2 linked regions of the Homo sapiens genome follow. The protein of the gene in region 2 purifies or fractionates together with the protein of the main gene of each other region. This does not show direct contact. Each region holds a gene or a part of one and is shown on either strand. Other genes may lie near its edges.

Evidence for each region. Proteins that work in one complex are often made in the same cells at the same time.
Region 1: the proteins of SETDB2 (region 2) and HEPHL1 purify together in Homo sapiens (affinity purification with mass spectrometry; 2 studies listed by BioGRID and IntAct, with this or other methods). This does not show direct contact.

The regions. Positions count from the first base shown.
Region 1 is NC_000011.10:94,066,237-94,069,990, reverse strand, and holds part of HEPHL1 (ferroxidase HEPHL1 precursor), read right to left. Parts: intron 3,021-3,754; exon of another isoform or gene 2,696-3,020; intron 2,557-2,695; exon of another isoform or gene 2,496-2,556; coding exon 2,241-2,495; intron 1-2,240. UniProt on the Homo sapiens protein: Is a copper-binding glycoprotein with ferroxidase activity. It oxidizes Fe(2+) to Fe(3+) without releasing radical oxygen species. May be involved in the regulation of intracellular iron content.
Region 2 is NC_000013.11:49,482,197-49,485,950, reverse strand, and holds part of SETDB2 (histone-lysine N-methyltransferase SETDB2), read right to left. Parts: intron 3,215-3,754; coding exon 2,989-3,214; intron 2,488-2,988; coding exon 2,388-2,487; intron 322-2,387; coding exon 228-321; coding exon of another isoform or gene 157-227; exon of another isoform or gene 106-156; intron 1-105. Other genes in the region: SETDB2-PHF11 protein, read right to left, coding at 228-321, 2,388-2,487, 2,989-3,214. UniProt on the Homo sapiens protein: Histone methyltransferase involved in left-right axis specification in early development and mitosis. Specifically trimethylates 'Lys-9' of histone H3 (H3K9me3).

The sequences.
Region 1 (3,754 bases), on a different chromosome or scaffold from region 2:
ATCAGATTAGTAAAGATTAGAAAGACTAATAATTCTCAGTGTTGGTAGATGAATGGGGAAAGAGCCATACTCATACACTTCGTGTAGAAGAATAACAATTTCCAAAAGAGAATGTGGCAATGTATGTCCATAGCTTTTTTAAAAAAATCATACTCTTTGACCCAGAAATTCTAAATCTAGGAGTTTTTCTAAGAAAATGTTCAGACAAAAGTGCAAACATCTATAAATAATAGTCATCAGTGCTGTTTATAATAGCAAAAAAATTGGTGGGAAACATAAGCATTAAGCAATAGAGTATTGATTAAGCAAGATGTAATCTCCTTATAATGGACACTGGAAGTATTAACCATGATGAAGTAAGCTCTATATTCACCGACATGAAAATGTGTTTCTGATATATTTGTAAATGAGAAAAATTAGCTACAGTGCAGCATTAATAGACTGATTTCATTTTTTAAAATACATATATATTTACATATTAAGAAATAGAAAATAGGGAAGATATTCACCAAAATGTGAATATAAAATATTTCTATTATGGAACTACTGATTTTAAAACCAATTTATAGGGGCCAGATCCAGTGGCTCATGCCTATAATCCCAGCACTTTGAAAGGCTAAGGTGGGAGGATTGCTTGGGCCCAGGAGTTTGAGACCAGCCTGGGCAACATAGCAAGACCCTGTCTCTATTTGTTAAAAAACCTCCAATTATATGTATTTTCTAATTTTTTTACAATAACTTTTTTCTGAAGGCATGGACAATTTAGAAATACTGTATTTCAGGGAACGTATAAATACTAGCTTATGTCCACAACTATCGGGCTAATTTAGCGATCTTACTAGTCTCAAATGGCAGCTAATATCTTGATTTTAAATCTACAGTTTCTTCCCAGATTTAACAGCATAAGACTCTTTGAGAATAGAAACCTTCTCTTGTTAATCTTTGTTTTCCCAGAAGAGCATCTAGTACATATTAACTGATTAATTTTTCAGTTGAATGTAATTGGGATACTGCAGTTGACTAATGCTATGACTCACTGTGGAAGGTGGACAGGAACAAGAATGTGTTACAAAAGCAGCCCTGAGCAGCTGGATCTTTGCACCTATTAGTGACTATGGGAAGTTAGTATCCAAATATCAGACATTATTTCTTCTGTGTCTATTCCATTAACATATTTTTTCTGTCTTGGTTTCATCATCTTAGGGCAGACGTTTAGGTGTTAGACCTCTAACACTGTCAAATGCTTCTTAACTAGCATCCAGTGGTCAGAATTCCTCCATCAAGTCCTTCTTGCATGCATACATTTATCTTCTTAAATAACTGCACCGATTATGTCACTAGTGTGCCAAAAGAGCTAAGGATCACACAGCCCCACCTCCTTAGCTTTGCTAAGGGGCCTGATGAGCCTCCCAGGCTCTTCTGTCATCACTTCTCTGTAAGGAACATTATGGTCCAGCTAAGAAAGGACATAGTGTATGATGTCTGAAGAAACCAGGACCAGGTCATTCAACAGGCATTTAAGCCAACAAATGTTTATCATGCACCTATCATAGGACATGAAGGAAGCTATAGGTCAATGGATTTTGTCTCAATTTGAGGAAGAACATTCCAATAGAGCAGTCCAGAGATGAGATGAGCTGCTATAACTACTCACAAGAGATGTTCAAAACGAAATTAAATAATTCGAGGGGGGATTGGTCCTTATTATCCAGAAAGTCCTTTCCAGTGCTAAAACCTTATTACTCTACTTACAGTTGCTCAAAAAGAACATGTGTTTTTCCCAGTTCATGCTGCTTCCTCAAAAGTCTTTCTTTCCTTCTTCATCTATTCAGTTCCTACTCATATTTCAAGGCTCATGTTAGGAGCCAGCTCCTCAGGAAGCCCCTCTGATTGCTCCAGAGTAGTGACTGCAACACCCAAAGAGCATTTATCTCATTCTGCCTTAAATCGTATTCATTTTGTGAATGTCTAACTATGTCTAACAACTATACTACAGGTTCCTCGAAGGTCTCATCAATTTTTAATCACTTCCCCACTTTTTTCATACAGAAGTGGTCAATAAATATCTGTTGATAGAATATCAAAGAGATGAGCGTTATATTTTCCTGTATATTTATTACCTAATTAAATATAGTACATACAAGGCTCTATCTAACAGTAGGTACTGGATGAGCACTAGTGACTGTGTGGTTTGATTGTACCATTCTAAACATATCAACTCTGGTCTTTATCCTTTTTACCTTGTAGGTGGTCGCTGACCTGGCAGGTTATCATCCACTTCCCAGGATTCTCGGCTATCATTTCTGTTGTAAGGAAGGTGGCTGGGAACAGGTTGACGACATCAGTCCGATGCCCTCTGCTGATGAAGGTGTTACCATAGAAATAGATAGAATGGATGTCTATTTCATTCCCCATTCCAAATAGGTGCCAGGACACAGATTCTCCAACACACATATCAGGCTCCGGGAAGTTTCCGAAGAGGTATCCATTGAGGGCTGGAAACAGAAACACGCTAGTGGAAGAGACTCCCCTGCAGAGGCGACTGGGACCAGAAATGTTGGTAATACGGGCTTAAGCATGGCTGGAAAACCAGTGCAGACCATTGGTTGTAAGGTTTTGGTGCAGAAAAACCTGGCTCTTAGAAATATATATTGTCCAAAAGAGAAATGAAATGTTTTTATTGGCCTTTTTCCAGAGAAAACACTCAATAAAAGTGAAGATCAGCATACACTGAGAACAGCCTCGGAGCTGCTGTGGGAACGCAATATGAGGTCAGGAGAAAACAGAGTGCTGCTCATATTTACAGGAGGCTCAGTCACCTTCTGTCATAATCCTTCACTGGCATATCTGCTGTCTTCACCAGATTCTGTGCTCCTTGGAACTAGAAACCCTGTCTTGTTCATCTTAACAGTTATCAGGACCTAGCAGAAAAACTGGCACATAGTATCTACTTAATGAAGTGACAAAAGCATGTAGTAAGATGGAAAGAAAAGGAATTGATTAAAAGGAATTTATGAGAACTGTTTTGTTTGTTTGTTTGTTTACTTTAAAAAGCCAAGAGAAAAACAGTTTTTACTACATGTTGCTGGAGCAGAATCTTATTAAGTTTATGGCGTAAATCCAGGACCGAATACTTTAAAACCATCTAAATGGCAGCTGGGAGTTGACCAAGTTCAGAAAAGAACTTGATTCAGGGCTTTAAAAAGTCACAATATCCCTTCTTAAGTTCGAACTGAGTTAAAAGCAATTGTTGCTGAAATGCCTGATGACTTAGGCAGCACAATTAATTCTAAATTATTTTAGTAAATTTAAATAAATTGATCAATAAAACTTGTACATATTAATTATCTTCCATAGTCTAGATTTTTTTAATTAAATTTTTTCCTTTACTTGATTAGGTCTCTTTTTCCAGTCTCTCTCTCTTTTTTTTCTTTTGAGATGGAGTCTCGCTCTGTCACACCCAGGCTGAAGTGCAGTGGCACAATCTCAGCTCACTGCAACCTCTGTCTCCTGGGTTCAAAAGATTCTTGTGCCTCAGCCTCCCCAGTAGCTGAGATTACAGGTGCCCACCACCATGACCAGCTAATTTTTGTATTTTTAGTAGAGACAGGTTTTGCCATGTTGGCCAGGCTGGTCTTGAACTCCTGGCCTCAAGTGATCCTCCCACCTTGGCCTCCCAAAGTGCTGGGATTACAGGCGTGTGCCACAATACCCCACCCTTTTCCAGTCTTGAAGGATTGTTTGCAAACACACA
Region 2 (3,754 bases):
TAAAAACATAAATATCATTCTTAGCTCACATGCCATACTGAACAGGTAGAGGGCCAGATTTGGCCCACACACGATATTTTGCTGATCTCTTATGTAGACAAGTTGTAACCTTTCTGACAAATGCAGCATGTTTATTATGGAATCTAAGAAAATGAGCTACAGGTATTGAGCAAGAGACAGAGAAACAGGCAGAAGAGGTAGGCATTCACAGAAGAAACAAAGCCTACTTTGTGCTCCCTTGGTTTTAGAGTTCAGATGCTCTCGGGGTGGTTTAAATCCATCATTATCTTCTGGAGTGACAGACTCCGAGGAAACAAATTCCTTAAAAAAACAAGGAAGATGTCTTTACTTTCCAGGTCAGGCAAAAGTATTTAGCAGTTAGGCCTCTTTCATCAAGTGTCAATCATCATAGGCTATATGTACTAGATTCGTTTTGAAAAGCCTCAAAGCTGATATCATAAGGAGTCTTTAGACTAATGGAGTCAACAAGTGTCATCCCCTTTGACTCTGTTCTACTTCTAGGTGCTTTATTAAGCCACAGCTATAAAGACTGTCAAGAAATTCTTTGGGAATTAAAATCTTAATGCATCCCTGTCTGTATCCCCCAATTCTAATCATCTCAGTACTTAGAAAGTGTTATTACTAGATTATAAATTTGCCTTCAACTGTAAGTTGTGTAAAGATGAAAAACACTCATTGGCTAGTTTCTACTTCAAAGAAAGGTTAACGAATGTGATAATGCTTACACATTGTAGACACTGCAGTCACTTTAAGTAGTAATGATAACTTTAAAAGAGGCGTATATACTCAGCACAATGCTTGGCAACCAACTAAGTATTCAATACACATTGACCATATTATTACTATGAAAGTTCTCAGCATGTGAATGGTCAACATGTATTGAGCACTTAGTTGGATGCTAAGCAAGTTGCTGATGCTTATCTCATTTAATCCTCATAATTCTGAAACATATACTATTACCTTTTTACAGATAAAAGAAATGTATGTATGGAGATACCACCCAGCTAGCACGCAGCAGAGCTGGAGGTTACACCTGGGTCTGTGTGACACCATGGCCAATCTTTTCATAATTCTCTGACCTTAAGGAGGTAGCTACTGTACCATTACCAGGCAGAGGGCAAATATTTGCATAACACCTAAAGCAGAGTTTTTACTCTTCATCAACAAGCCCTAAAGTAAGCTACCATTATGTCTCTCTTTGTTCTCTTTTCTCTTTCTCTGCTTCTACGTTTCAGTCTCTGACTAATCTTTAGTTCACAATGCAAAGGGTACCCTCAGAGGCTACCACATAAAATACTGTTTTCTGGATGATTCTTTCATAAAATTGCATCTCTTCTTTCTCATACATCTTAAAACCTTCAGCCAGGCGCAGTGGCTCACGCCTCTAATCCCAGCACTTCGGGAGGCCAAAGTGGGTGGATCACCTGAGGTCAGGAGTTTGAGACCAGCTGGCCAACATCATGAAACCCCGTCTCTACTAAAAATACAAAAAAGTAGCTGGGCATGGTGGCAGGCACCTGTAATCCCAGCTACTCATGAGGCTGAAGCAGGGGAATCGCTTGAACCCAGGAGGCAGAGGTTGCAATAAGCTGAGATCGTGCCATTGCACTCCAGCCTGGGCAACAAGAGTGAAACTCCATCTCAAAACAAAACAAAACAAAAAACAAAAACCTTGTTCTCCTTCACCTAAATTACTTTGTCCCTTTTCTTATATATCACTATTAACTCCTGAAGACTTTAGCTTCTCCCACAAACTCTCAGAATGGGATACCTCTCGGTCTCAGTGGAGCACACTGTCAGATCATGACCAGCATTCTCCTCATACAGCCAAGCTGGAAACATGTCAACTGCCGTGGATGATACTAAGTAAACAGAACATGGTCCTAGCATTTCCACCGTCCACCATTCCAAAACAATAAAAGAAATTCTACACACTATAAAGTAACACAAACATTTTGAGCTAAGTAAAGGATAGGAAGGCAATAGTTTACATCTCAGAAGGGCCCCAGCAGCTGGGTGCGGTGGCTCATGCCTATAATCCCAGAACTTTGGGAGGCTGAGGCACAACAGCTGCTAGAGCTCAGGAGTTGGAGACCAGCCTGGGCAATATAGTGAGACCCCATCTCTACTAAATAAGAGCTGGGCATGGTGGTGTGCACCTGTAGTCCCAGCCATTCGGGAGGCTGAGGGAGGAGGATACTCGAGCCCAGGAGATTGTGGCTGCAGTGAGCTGTGACTGTGCCACCACACTCCAGCCTGGGTGACAGAGTGAGACTCTGCGTCAAAAAAAAAAAAAAAAAAAAAAAAAAAAAAAAAAAAATTTAAAAAAGAAAAGAAGGGTCCCAACTACATTTTGCATTTTTTACCATTTTTTTCCCATTGTGTTGAAAAATGGCTGTCTTGGATTCAGGATCTCTAATAACTGAATGATATTGAATTCTTGAAATATTATCATATTTCGTTTCCCTAAAAAGGAAAAAAAAGTTATTCTGTATCACTAAAAATTCTCTTCATTCTCTTTACTCAAGTACAGATAATATCCATTATTACATAAATATCCTTAATTATTATAAATTAACCTAAGTAAGAACATCTATGTTTATTCCTTTCCCTAGAGAAAGGAAATATAATCATAAATAATTTTTGAAGTACATTTGGAAAAGGAAGAGAACCTATGAAAACTTTGCAGATAAAATGATAGAAAATTTTAAAAAACAGCAAAACTTATGACATCCATAAAAAACCTGACTAAAGTCATATAAGGTAAAATTCCAAAACTGGAACACTGAGGATGGTATATTGGCTAGATTTTTACATGTCCTGGATTTCTCAAAGTGTTAGACTTAACAACTTTGAAGCAAAATGATAAATACAAATGAGGAGAAAAGAAAGAGGGGAAGGAATGAAAAAGAACCAATTGATTGATAATAATTTAGATTTACTCTGGGTTCCTCAGCTGTTACTTACACAGTAAGCTCCTTGGGATTATTACTGAACTTTGGTGGACATTTCTCAGTTTTAGCAGTTCTAGGATGTGTTTCCAATCCTAATGGGAGAACTTCAACTTCACAATCTGAACATGCAACTTCTAATTTCCTCTTTTTTGAAAATATATTTTTCATAGTATTCTCATCTCTCCCGTTTTCATCAATACCATAAGATTTTTCAGTGTTAGCTCTGCTTAGTAATCTTCCTAAAAGGAAAATGTTAAAGAGTTTGAACAACACAGAAGATAATTGCTAATGATAAACAGACATCTCTATTTCTACTCCATGACTAAAGAACCCACACATTCTACAATGAAGATAAACACATTAACTCATCCTACAAAACTGTTGCAAGACAAAGACCAATGTGATATTTCTTATCTTCCAGTATATGAAAAAACAGGGTATCTAAAAAAAAACCATTTGTCTGTTTTGGTATAATACAAAAGAGAAGAGATTTAGCTAGAATGATACAAAAAGATATGGATGAGAAAGTACTCTAGAAAATTAGAGAGATGACTCTAGCCATAAAATTGTAGCTTTTATGTCTAGTTAAAAAGGCGTTATCATCTGAAACTTAAAATTTTTAACAAAAGTACCTATTTAAATATGTGGTGATATGTTCTTAGTGTTGTCATATTAAGTTCTGCATAACACTAAAATCTTGGTCTAAAGTTCATGCATTTTCTTTCAAGGGATTCAATATTATAGTTGCCAAGTCCAAATTAATAGCAGGATATTCTTAC